Regions from separate parts of the Homo sapiens genome. Here regions 2 and 3 are each reported to be linked to region 1. The links are microRNA targets in miRTarBase. Many come from high-throughput screens and were not tested one by one. Region 1 holds a microRNA gene; each other region holds the end of a gene's coding sequence.
The links. The annotated mature microRNA hsa-miR-4776-5p reads GUGGACCAGGAUGGCAAGGGCU and lies in region 1 at 2,937-2,958, opposite strand. An mRNA with a match to its seed (bases 2 to 7 or 8) in the 3' UTR can be bound and repressed. Matches are read on the target gene's strand: a 7mer-m8 pairs with bases 2 to 8, a 7mer-A1 pairs with bases 2 to 7 and ends in A, and an 8mer does both.

Region 2: miRTarBase lists ZNF284 as a target of hsa-miR-4776-5p. Seed matches in the 3' UTR shown: 7mer-m8 at 1,287-1,293.
Region 3: miRTarBase lists ARGFX as a target of hsa-miR-4776-5p. Seed matches in the 3' UTR shown: 7mer-m8 at 2,663-2,669.

Annotation. Positions count from the first base shown.
Region 1 is chr2:212,923,370-212,927,725 of GRCh38, forward strand. MIR4776-2 (microRNA 4776-2) reads right to left here and starts at 2,967; the gene lies at 2,888-2,967. It overlaps MIR4776-1 (microRNA 4776-1), which reads left to right and starts at 2,888; the gene lies at 2,888-2,967.
Region 2 is chr19:44,086,864-44,090,863 of GRCh38, forward strand. ZNF284 (zinc finger protein 284) reads left to right here. Exons shown (of 5, transcript NM_001037813.4): 5 at 1-2,750. The coding sequence ends at 397. Among named protein-coding and RNA genes, the nearest start is that of ZNF224, 5.5 kb to the right of the region's middle.
Region 3 is chr3:121,586,299-121,590,654 of GRCh38, reverse strand. It overlaps ARGFX (arginine-fifty homeobox), which reads right to left. Exons shown (of 5, transcript NM_001012659.2): 5 at 33-4,356. The coding sequence ends at 4,055. Among named protein-coding and RNA genes, the nearest start is that of FBXO40, 4.9 kb to the left of the region's middle.

The DNA.
Region 1 (4,356 bases):
CCCTCAGTGCAGCCCAAGGCACATTCAGCAATCTCACTCAGAACAACCAGGAGAGATACTTAACACAATGTATGCCCTTAGGAAAAAAAAGTAGAATAGCATTATCAAAGGCTCTGATTTCTAGATACAGGTGTGCTCTGACTTTTTCATGCTTTCCTTTTTCTCTCTGAAATATGGGAATAATACCCCCTGTCACTGAGCCACTGGAATGTTGAGGAGACAATGAGTTAGCATTGGAAAACAATTCAGGGTGAAAGGTGCGGATGTGAGCTCAAGGTATTTGTTAATGTTATTACTCAATCCATTCTGGCCCAGTGTGGAAACAAAAGCAACTTTTATTACAAATAACACAACATTGTTAAAATAACCTTAGGAAAGAGAGAATAAATGAATCTACCAAGATAAATAGATAGCAGCTGGGTTATTGAGACCTCATGTTGAGGTTACAGGCTTTTAACACTAAATGCAATGTTCTTTTAATTTTCAAGTAAGAATCATTTGGTGAAAAAAGTAGGTAACCTATTAGTGCCTGTCTATAAAAGAGTGAGGACTTAGATTTCTAAATGCATACTAACAAGTATATTTATAAAGACAGATTTTATTACCTGATTGTATAAAGCAGAAGTCTCCTTTAACAGATTAAAAGAAGAGGTGGGTGGAATATGCTAACAAACAAAGGTCCATGTGTGAATCGGGGGATATTCAGGACTTAACTAGACTTCAGCAGACTCATTTAGGATCTTAAACACTGTCCCAAGTCCAAAATTCACATTTAAGCTGAGAGCAGCTAGGACTTTACTATCTATCTATGGTTTAAGTTGTCTTCCACTCGGCTTGTAAAGCCTAGAGTGTCACTGTTTCTGCCCACAGATAGCTGTCAATCTTGGCCCATAAGGAGATGGAACCATAGGAAATGTTTCATCTCCACTCCCAGCACTTCTTTCCATATAAAAAGATTTCCACTAGCACAGCAGTCCTGACATCTCTGTTCTCAGGAGAAGAGGGAATCATTTAATGTTATTGAGTCCCTTTACCTCCTCATTCTCTTGAGAGCTATGTGCATAGAGAAAGCATACTTTCTGCTCTGCTATTTCAGACCCTACATTTTAGAGTACATTGTCTAATGTTGGAAATAAGGTAGGTAAGTCTCTCTAAATCTGAGATTCAGTGATAGTAAGGCGATCCTCCAAAATCAACTTTAACAATGATAAAATTGATAATTTCCTCTCTATCTATCTTACTCTGTTTTTCAATGACTCAGACTCAGCTGGAGAAGAGAGATGTTCCCTCTCTTGAGCTCACTAAAGACATTCAACAACATGTAATACAATGGGTGGGACATTTGTCTTTTCCAGGCCAAGGAAAAGGAAAACAAACTTAGGTCCCCAAAGACTTAGGATAAAATATCACAGATATAAACTTAGCAAAGTTGAACTCAGCTGTTAGAAAATGGAATTGGATTAGTTTCCTGTGGCTGCTATAACAAATCACCACAAACTCAATGGCTTAAAACCACATAAACTTATCCTCTCACAGTTCTAGGGGACAAAACTCCAAAATCAGTTTCACTAGGCCTACATCCAGGAGTTAGCCAGGCCATGCTCCCTCTGGGAACTCTAAGAGAGAATCTGGCCTTTCCTCTTCCTGCTCATGGGACTGCCAGCACTTCTTGGCTTGTGGCTGCATCACTCCCATCTGCCTCCCTGATCACATTGCCTTCTCCTCGTTGTCAGCTCTCCCTCTGCCTCTCTCTCATAAGGATATACGTGACTGCATCTAGGGCCCATTCTAATAAGCTGTGATAACCTCTTCATCACAATATCCTTAACTTAATCATACCTATAAAGACCTTAAATTTTTAATGTTTTAATTGTTTTTAATTTAAAAATGTCTTTTCTTAGGTTCCTACAGACAGAAACCTTTTTTCTGTATCAGGTAGTATTTACAGATTCTAAGGATTAGGACCTGACGTCCTCGGGGGACTATTTTTCCACATGAGTTCAATAGTCTTGAATAAATATCATTTATATCTCTTTTCTTCTTTTCTCTATGTTCTGAAATTTTACAATTTAAGATGCAAAAATATGTGGTCTAATATCATAGTTTTAGAGAATTAAGAAGGTAAATTCATCCTAGAGTTTGGATCAAACAAATAATATTTAGAAGGAATATATCATAAGGTGATAACTTTGTATGTCGGTATATATGTAAGTGTGGGTGTGTGTAAATCATTAAATTTCCATATATATACCATATAATTTTCTACCTGAAATGTTGTGAGTTAAATCAAAAAATGTAAATTATTCCTACATATCATTAATATTATAAATTCAGGACCATAGTTATTTATATATTTATTTTTAAAATTCTGGTTGAAGCATTTGGTGAAACAGTTCCAGAATTGAGTTTTTTATTCTTTCTATATGTGGAGCATATGGTAAAATTATTCCTATTTCTAATATGAGTTTGGTATTTTATTGTTAAACTCTAGAAAACAACCACCTTTTAGCCAAGAACCTTTGCCCTCTAAGACACACTCAATTGTATTTTACTTTTGCTACCAACATTTAGGGGTTAGTTTACTTTGTGTTATCATATTCCACCAATATTCAAAAGATTTATCACTTGGCAAGAGTTACTGATGACACTCCATGAGTAGGAAACCTCAAATCTTGGTGAAGGGCAGGCACTGAGCTTCTGCTAAGCACTCTCACTAGCTAAGAAACTTGTGCTACATACTACATGTGCCCTGTTTCAGTTAGGACAGGCTATGATATCGTAACAAATAGACCGCCAAATTCAGCTTCTCATGTTTGAGGGAAAAACACATCTATCTCTCTTTTGGACAACAGTCCAGGATGAGGGTTCCAGGTCAGTGGGAGCTCGGCTATATGCAGTGGACCAGGATGGCAAGGGCTCTCCTGAAAGGACAGTAGAGCCCTTGCCATCCTGGTCCACTGCATATAGTCTGCTCCATCTCAGGAAGCCAGAAGGTAGAAGGGGATGCAAAAACACAGCAGTGCAAGAGCTCTAGTATGTGGCCACACAGAATTGCAATGGAGACTGGGAAGTATAGTCTAGCTGTGTGCTCAGGAAGAAGAGGAGAAGGGATTTTGGTAAACAGCTGGCAGTCTTTGCTGCATGCATTATTTCTGCCTCAGCAAAATAAAAGTTGACTATGTAAAACAGAGGTCATGTGTGTAGAGGTCATTGTGTATACCCTTGGGATATACACAAGCATTCAAACCAATGAATAGTGAGAATTTATTCTACCCAAGCAACTATTTATGCCGAATATTCAGAAGGGGAGGGGAGCAGGAAAGAAATGGTTTATTTTCTTTAAATTATTGAAAATATTAGCTTATATCAATTTTCTCAAGTGATGAAAATGCAGGGGTTAAGCCTTTATTTTTTTTTTAAAGTAAATATTAGTATTATGTAGTATATGTTAAGAAGGTTTTTTTCTCTTCATTTCTTAATCTATTGAGGGAAGGACTAGGCAAATGAAGTTAGGCTTCTTTTCTCAGGGGGCCTAACTGTTGGCCCAGGCTGGGTTCCAAGAACTAATACAAGGAATGGTAACTGGTGGGGTTGTCTTTTTGCTGAATGAAGAGAAGAAAAGAAGAATTCCAAGTCTGTTTCCCAGGCACAGGAAGGACCAGGAAGCAAGGAAACTTCCAATTTTCAAGTCCACTGAGCAGAATACAAGAACAGGGTCCAAAACAAAGAGTTCTCCGTTGAGAACCGGCAAGATGGAGCAAGCAAGTCCTGCAGGCAGGCTGGGCCTGGAGAGGCGCCAAGAGGCCACAGCACTCTTGGGAGGAGGTTTTTCTGGACTCTTGAGGAGCTGAGACTTTTATATTCCAACCCTGCCTTTAATTTGAGGTTTGCCTCCTCCCTCCATTTGCAGAAGAGTAATCCGAAGCTAAATCATTCATAACATGAGAATGCTGATCTGTGTCCAGCCCTTGTGAAGGGAAAAGAAAACAAAACTTCACAAACATAATTAGTAGAACTACCTATAAAACCTAATGTTAAAAGAGAAATTAGCTTTCATGGAGAGAAAGTGTGATGGCATGACACAGAAATTAAGTGCACTGAATTTAGATTTGAAAAGAGTTTGATTCAATTCATGTCCCTGCTTCCCAGTAGTCCGTGACCTTGGGCAAGTGACCTATACTCTCTAAATCTTAGTTTCCTTATCTGTAAGATGGGAGATGAAAATAATACCTAATTCATATTTTTTAAGAACTTAATGAAAGAATGTTCAAATGTATCTAATAAGGTATAGGAACTCAACACATGCCAGTTAAACAAATTTCTAATAATTGACTTTCTTATTTCTTCCTTTCTGGG
Region 2 (4,000 bases), not on the chromosome of region 1:
GAGCTTCAGGTGGGCCTCAGGTATTTTGAGACATAAGAGACTCCATACTGGAGAAAAACCATTCAAATGTGAAGAGTGTGGGAAGAGGTTTACTGAGAATTCAAAACTTCGTTTCCATCAAAGAATTCACACTGGAGAAAAGCCTTACAAATGTGAGGAGTGTGGAAAGGGATTCAGATGGGCCTCAACTCATCTAACCCATCAAAGACTCCACAGCAGAGAAAAACTATTCCAATGTGAGGATTGTGGGAAGAGCAGTGAGCACAGTTCATGCCTTCAAGACCAACAAAGCGACCACAGTGGAGAAAAAACATCCAAATGTGAGGACTGTGGGAAGCGCTACGAGAGGCGCTTGAATCTAGATATGATTTTATCATTATTTTTAAATGATATATAATTATTGTCCATATTTATGGGTTACAGCATATTTCAATACATGTATACAATGTATAATGATCAAATCAGTGTTATTAGCATATCCATCACCTCCTTTATCATTTATTTGTGGATCATTTATCATTTCTTTGTGCTTTGAACGTTCAAAAACTGCTGTTCTAGTTATTTGAAAATAAGTTATTATTAATTATAGTCACCTTTAGTGCTGTGGAACACTAGAACTTGTTCCTTTCATCATCTTACTGTACTTTCATATCTGTTAACGAATCTTTCATCATCCACCCTCTCTCCTACTTTTCCCTTCTAGTAATTGCTATGCCATGCTGCTTCTGCTTTTTTTTTTTTTTTTTTTTTTTTTTGAGAACAGAGTCTTCCAGGCTTGAGTGTAGTGGCATGATCCTTTCTCACTGCAGCCTCCACCTCCTGGGTTCAAGCGATTCTCCTGCCTAAACCTCCTGAGTAGCAGGGATTACAGGCACGCACCACCACGCCCAGCTAATTTTTGTACTTTTTTTTTTTTTTTTTTGAGACAGAGTATCGCTCTGTCGCCCAGTATGGAGTGCAATGGCTTGATCTCGGCTCACTGCAACCTCTGCCTCCTGGGTTCAAACGATTCTTCCCTGCCTTGGCCTCCCGAGTAGCTGGGACTACAGGCGCCCGCCACCACACCTGACTAATTGTTGTATGCGTAGTAGAGATGGGGTTTTGCCATATTGGCCAACCTGGACTTGAACTCCTGACTTCAGATGATCCGCCCACCTCGGCCTCCCAAAGTGCTGGGATTACAGGCGTGAGCCACCATGCCCACCATGCCTAAAAATTTTTGTATTTTTAGTGAAGATGGGGTTTCACCACATTGGCCAGGCTAGCCTTGAACTCCCAAACTCAAATGGTCCACCTGCCTTGGCCTCCCAAAGTGCTGGGATTACAGGCATGAGCCACCGTGCCCAGCCAATGCTATGCTGCTTCTATGATGTCAACTTTTTAGCTTCCACATATGTGTGAAAACATGTGGTATTTATCTTTCTGGGCCTGAATTTACATCACTCAACATCATGTTCTCCAAAGCTTATCTTTATCTTGCCATAAATGACAGAATTTTATTATTTTTTATGGTTAAATAGTGTACCTTTGTGTATGTATGCCACATTTTCTTTACCATTTTCTGTTGATGAACACTTAGATTGGTTCCATATGTTAGCTATTGCAAATAGTACTATAATAAATATAGGAGTGCAGATAGGAGTTCAACACACTGATTTCCTTTCCTTTGGATATACAGCTAGTAGTGGGATTGCTGGATCACTTGAATGCTGATATGCATAAGAGGATCTACACTGGAGAAAAACCATGGAAGTGTGGAGATTGTGGTACATGCTTCAGTCAGGGCTCACATCTTCAAATTCAGTGTCTGTTCTGTAGAGAAACCTTAATAATGTGATATATGTGACAGCAAAGAGTTATAAGATATGAATATGTTAATTTTAGTAGATACTTCCGAAAAGTATTTCAAACTGGTTGTACCACTATAAACTCTGACCATTATTAGGCAAGAATTGGCTTTTTTTTTTTTTTTCTTTTGAGACAGTCTTGCTCTGTCACCCAGACTGGCATGCAGTGGAATGATCACGGCTCCCTGCAGCCTTGACCTCCCAGGCTCAAGAAATCCTTCTGCCTCAGCCCCTCAAAAGCTGGGACTATAGGCATGCAACAACACGCCTGGCTAAATTTTTGTTGTAGAGATGGGGTCTCACTATGTTGCCCAAATTGGTCTCAAACTCCTGGGCTCAAGCGATTCTCCCTCCTCAGCCTTCCAAAGTGCTGGGATTACAGGCCTGAGCCATGCGCACAGCATTTTGTTTTGTTTTGTTTTGTTTTTGAGATGGGGTCTCTCGGTGTTGCCCAGGCTGGATTGCTTATTCACAGATGCAGTTACAGTGCCCTATAGCCTCGAACTCCTGGGCCTAAGTGATCCTCTTGCTTCAATCCCCTGAGAAGCTGGGACTACAGGCATGGACCACCACCCCTGATTGATCTTCTTTAGTTTCTATAACAAAATAGTACACTGTTTCCACAAACTTGGGAAGGCTAGTATTTGGGGGTGGGGGGCGTGGAAATCACTAAACAACAAAGAAAATCTGATGAATTGGACAGCATAAAAATATTGGCATAAAGATGAACATAACATAAGCAGGAATATTTAAAGCACATACTTTTTATAGAGTGTCTCCCCTGTAATGTCTCTGGTTAAATGAAAGGGTTTCAAATGTGAAGACAACCCTAACCATACTCATTATCTGTAAAAGATGTAGCATTGTCATGGACTCCTTAATAAACGTGAAGACTTTAATCCATCTGAAGGTGCATCACATTTCTGAAGTTTCCAACACTGACAAGGTGATGGGCTTATGGATGAAAACTCATGAATGGGAAAAACTCAGCTATCGTTAAAGCCCATATATTTTATTAAAGATATTGGGGCTGTCTCCTAAATCTAGTTAGTGATGAATTTCAAGTCTAGAGCCATCACCGAATCCTTGTCCACATTCATTACACATAGGTTTTCTGAGAAAATTGTCTGCTGGTTATGAGAGGTCTTCTCCCGTGCCAAAGTGAGTATAATAACCTTGCTTTTGGCCAGGTGCGGTGGCTCACACCTGTAATCCCAGCGCTTTGGGAGGCCGAGGTGGGCAGAGTGCCTGAGGTCAGGAGTTTGAGACTAGTCTGGCCAACATGGTGAAAACCCATCACTATTAAAAATACAAAACAATTAGCTGGGTGTGGTGGTGGCGTGTGCCTGTAATCCCAGCTACTCAGGAGGCTGAGGCAAGGGAATTGCTTGAACCAGGGAGGTGGAGGTTGCGGTGAGCCGAGATCACGCCACTGCACTCCAGCCTGAGTGACAGAGTGAGACTCCATCTCAAAAAAATAAAAATAAAAATAAAAGTAAACAAGCTTGCTTTCTTTTATGTGCTCCTTGATTTTGATGGTGATGTGAAATCAAACTGAAGCTGAAAATACAATAATCACATTTATACAGGGCATTTTTCAAGGAAATTTATTGATTTTTACTTTAATAATTTAGTGCCTCACTTTTGTAAGTCTCTTGTAAGTGGCCAGGCATGGTGGCTCACACCTGTAATTCCAGCACTTTGGGAGGCTGAGGCAGAAGGATCAATTGAATCTAAGAGTTTGAGACCAGCTTTTTACAGAGTGTCTCCCCTATAATGTCTCTGGTTAAATGAAAGATTTTCAACTGTGAAGACAACCCTAACCATACTCATATTCTAGTTCCTTTGCCTTTCCATATAAATTTTAGAATAATTTTATATCTACAAAATATCTTGCTGGAATTTTGATAGTAATTATTTTAACCCTGTGTATCAATTTGGGGAGAATGAACATTTTTGCTATATTGAGTCCCACGATCCTCAAACATGGAATGTGTCTCCATTCATTTAATATTGTTGGATTTTCTTCATCAGTGTGTTGTAATTTTCATCTTACAACCCTTGTACATCTTTTGTCAAACTTCCATCTAGGTATGAACTTTGATTTCCGTGTGTTCATTGCTAGTATAATATATATAAATTAATTTTGGTAT
Region 3 (4,356 bases), not on the chromosome of region 1:
TGTTATAACAGAATACCTGAGACTGGGTAATTTATGAAGAGAGATTTATTTCTTACAGTTCTGAAGGCTGGGAAGTCTTCCAGTCTCAGACGGAAGATGGAGGGGCCACACCTGGCCAGGGCCTTCATGTTTCATCCTCCCATGGCAGAAGGAAGGGAGAGGAGGAGGTAAGAGAGAGAGAGAAAGATAGAGGTGGGGGTGGGGATAAAGATTTTGGGGAAGAAGAAGGCCGAACTCATCCTTTTATCAGGAACCCACTTCTGAGATAACTAACCCACTCCCACAATAATGGCATTAATCCATTCATGGGGGCTCTGCCTAGTAACCCTTAAAGGTCTCACCTCTCAAAGCTGTTGCTTTGGGGATTAAGTTTCCAACGCATGAGCTGTGGGGGACACATTCATACCATAGCAAGCTCTATTCACAACATCTATTTCTTGTGGAGTCAGATTTGGTATTCTGTGTCTTCCTAGGAATTTGTCCATTTCATTTATCTAATTTGTTGGCATTCAATTGTTCATAGTATTTCTTTCTAATAATTTTTATTTCTATAAGTTTGGTAATAAAATCTTGACTTTTGTTTCTGATTCTAGTAATTTGAGTCTTTTGAGGGGGTGGTCAATCTAGCTAAATGTTTGCCATTTTGTAGATCTTTTCAAAGAACCAGCTTTTGATTTCATAATTTTTTTTCTGTATTGCTTTTCTATTCTCTATTTCATTTATTTCTGTTCTAGGCTTTCCTTCTTTCTGCTTTCTTTGGACTGTTATTATCAATTATTGAGAATGTTCTATGAATATACCACATTATGACTATATATTAGTGAAGTTTTCTTAAGAATTTTAATTTTTGCTAAAATTTGCCTCATATATTTTTGGTATATGTTGTTAAGTATATTTAAGTTCAAAGTTATTATATATTTCAGGTTAGTTGTTCCTTTTGTTGTTGTCTAATATACTTCATTTCTAAAAAAACTGTTTTGGCCAGGTGAGGTAGCTCACACCTGTAATCTCAGCCCTTTGGGAGGCTGAGACGGGAGGATCACTTGAGCTCAGGAGTTTGAGGCCAGCCTGGGCAACATGGCAAAACCTGTCCCTACTAAAAATACAAAAATTAGCTGGGTGTGGTGGCGTACACCTGTAGTCCCAGCTACTTGGGAGGCTAAAGCAGGAGAATCATTTGACCCAGGAGGCGGAGGTTGCAGTGAGCCGAGATTGCACGGCCTGGGTGACAGAGCAAGACTCCATCTCAATAAAAAAGTTTTGCCTTGAAGTTTAATTTGACAGATATTGATAAAACTATGCCACTTCCTTCCTATGTAAAGCTACTTTTAAAAAATATGTATATAAGTATTTGAAGCTATAAATTTCCTTCTAAGCATTGATTTAGCTTCATCCCATGTTTTGGTTTGTTGTGCTTTTGTTTTTTTCAGTTAAAAGTGTTTTCCAATTTTACTCATGATTTCTTCTATTTATTTATTTATTGAGACAGTATCACTGTGTTGCTCAAGCTGGAGTGCAGTGGCACAGTCACAGCTCACTGCAGCCTCGACCTCTGTGGCTCAAGGGATGCTCTTACCTCAGCCTCTCGAGTAGCTGGGACCATGGGCTCTGGCCGTCATGCCCAGCTAATTTTTTATTTTTTGTAGACACAGGGTTTTGCCATGTTGCTCAGACTGTGATTACCTCTTTAACCACTGGTTATTTAGGAATGTGTTGTTTAATATCCACATATTTGTGAATTTCCCAAATTTTATTGATTTCTAATTTCGTTCCATCATGTTTGGAGAACACACTGCATAGTTTCAATCCTTGTGATTCTCCTGCCTCAGCCTCCCAAGTAGCTGGGACTACAGGTGTGTGCCACCATGCCCAGCTAATTTTTTTTTTTTTTTGTATTTTTAGTAGAGGCAGGATTTCACCATGTTGGCCAGGATGGTCTTGATCTCTTGACCTCGTGATCTGCCCGCCTTGGCCTCCCAACGTGCTGGGATTACAGGTGTGAGCCACTGCGCCTGGCCTATTCAAAACATTTTCTATGTCCTTTTTTAAGTTTTGAAGTTTTCTCCACAGAGGTATTAATTTTTTTGTGAATTTCTAGGTACTTTTACATTTTTCATTGAGAGGTACTTATCTTATGTTTCTTTTATTTTTTATTTTTTATTTTTTATTTTTTTTTTGAGACAGAGTCTTGCTCTGTTGTCCAGGCTGGAGTGCAGTGGTGCGACCTCAGCTCACTGCAACCTCCACCTCCCAGGTTCAAGCAATTCTCCTTCCTCAGCCTCCCGAGTAGCTGGGATTACAGGTGTGTGCCACCATGCCTGGCTTTTTTTTTTTTTTTTTTTTGTATTTTTAGTAGAGACGGGATTTCACCATGTTAGTCAGGCTGGTCTCAATCTCCTGACCTCGTGATCCGCCCGCCTCGGCCTCCCAAAGTGCTGGGATTACAGGCATGAGCCACCACCCCCAGCCCTTATGTTTCTTTATTACTGGTGTTCAGAAATGGTATTAATTTTGTAGGTTGATCATGTGGCTGGAAAATATGCTAACTTGTCATTCTAAAAGTTTGACTCTTTATTTTGTGAGTTTTGCAAGTTTATCATCTCACCTTCAAAAATCTGTTTTTATTTCTTCCTGTGATAGTTTTTACACCTCTTATTATGTCTGGACCATTGTACTATATATATATATATTATTTTTTCATTGTACTATATTAAAACTAGTGGTGACAGTAATTTCCCCTCAAATTAGGACTGAAAGTCTCATTTTAAAAAAACCCAAATTCAGCCTGGGCAACAAGGCGAAACCCCATCTCCACTAAAAATACAAAAATTAGCCAGACATGGTGGCGCATGTCTGTAGTCTCAGCTACTCAGAAGGCTGAGGTGGGAGGACTGTTTGAGCCCAGGAGGCAGAGGCTGCAGTGAGCCAAGATGGTGCCACTGCACTCCAGCCTGGGTGACAGAGTGCTGTCTACAAAAAACAAATAACAAACAAAAAATGAAAAATTGGAAACAAAATGTAAGTTTATAACTTTCTGTCATTAAAAGTGGATGATAGTGTACTCACTTCCACAACACATATACTAAAATCAGAATGATACAGAGAGAAAAGTGGATGATGGTTTCTTCGGTTTCCTTGAAAAAAAGTGTTTTTAAACTAGATAACCCAGCCGGGTGCGATGGTGCACTCCTGTATTCCTAGCACTTTGGGAGGCTGTGGCAGGTGGATGGCGTTAAGTCCAGGAGTTGGAGACCAGCCTGGGCAACATGGCAAAACCTCGTCTCTACAAAAAACACAAAAATTGGCCAGGCTCGGTGGCTCATGTCTGTAATCCCAGCACTTTGGGAGGTCAAGGCAGGCGGATCACTGGAGGTCAGGAGTTCAAGACCAGCCTGGGCAACGTGGTGAAACCCCGTCTCTACTAAAAATACAAAAGTTAGCCAGGCATGGTGGCACACGCCTGTAATCCCAGCTACTCAGGAGGCTGACACAGGAGAATCACTTGAACCCCAGGAGGTGGAGGTTGCACTGAGCTGAGATCCCGCCACTGCACTCCACCCTGGGTGACAGTGCGAGACTCAGTCTCAAAAAAAAAAAATTAGCCAGGTGTGGTGGCGAGCATCTGTAGTCCTAGCTACTCAGGAGGCTGAGGTGGGAGGATCACCTGAGCCCAGGAGGTCAAGGCTTTTGTGAGCCGTGACTGTACCACTGTATTCCAGCCTGGGTGACAGAATGAGAGCTAGTTTCAAAAAAATAAAAGTGGATAACCCCCAAAACCACTGTCCTACTTTTAGAAAATCCAAGATAGTTTTGGGAAGGGAATTTTGGAGTCTCATTGGCCATGAAAGGGACTAGGCAGGCTTCTCAGGGAGACTTGTGGGGCTGATTACGTAGTGCCCAGCTCTACTTGGAAAACTCTTTTTGCAACATTTACATGGAAATCAGAGACACAGACCCAGATGTTGGGTTAAAATGAGACAAAGGAAAAAAACAGTCATGTACAAGAGGCAAGAAGACCACTTTTCTAAATGATCTATATTTATTAGTACTCTGGTCAGAGAAATCCCAAGTCTACCATATTGGAGGTTTTCTGGAATTCCAGGCTATCTGTTAGACTGTAGGCTTCAAAGGCTTGGCTTGTCATATTGGGCCAGGTTTGTGCAGGAGATAGGCCTACAGCTGGACCAGCAAAGATGCTGAGAGAGGAACCCTGTCCTCCTACCTGGTACTTTGTGGGTGAGAGATACTGATACAGACAGTGGAAAGAAGAGCTGGATATCTCATTCTCATCAGGAAGATTGTACAGTTCTATGATTTGGAATATGTCATAGGCATCAGAGTACAAAGCAGGAACCG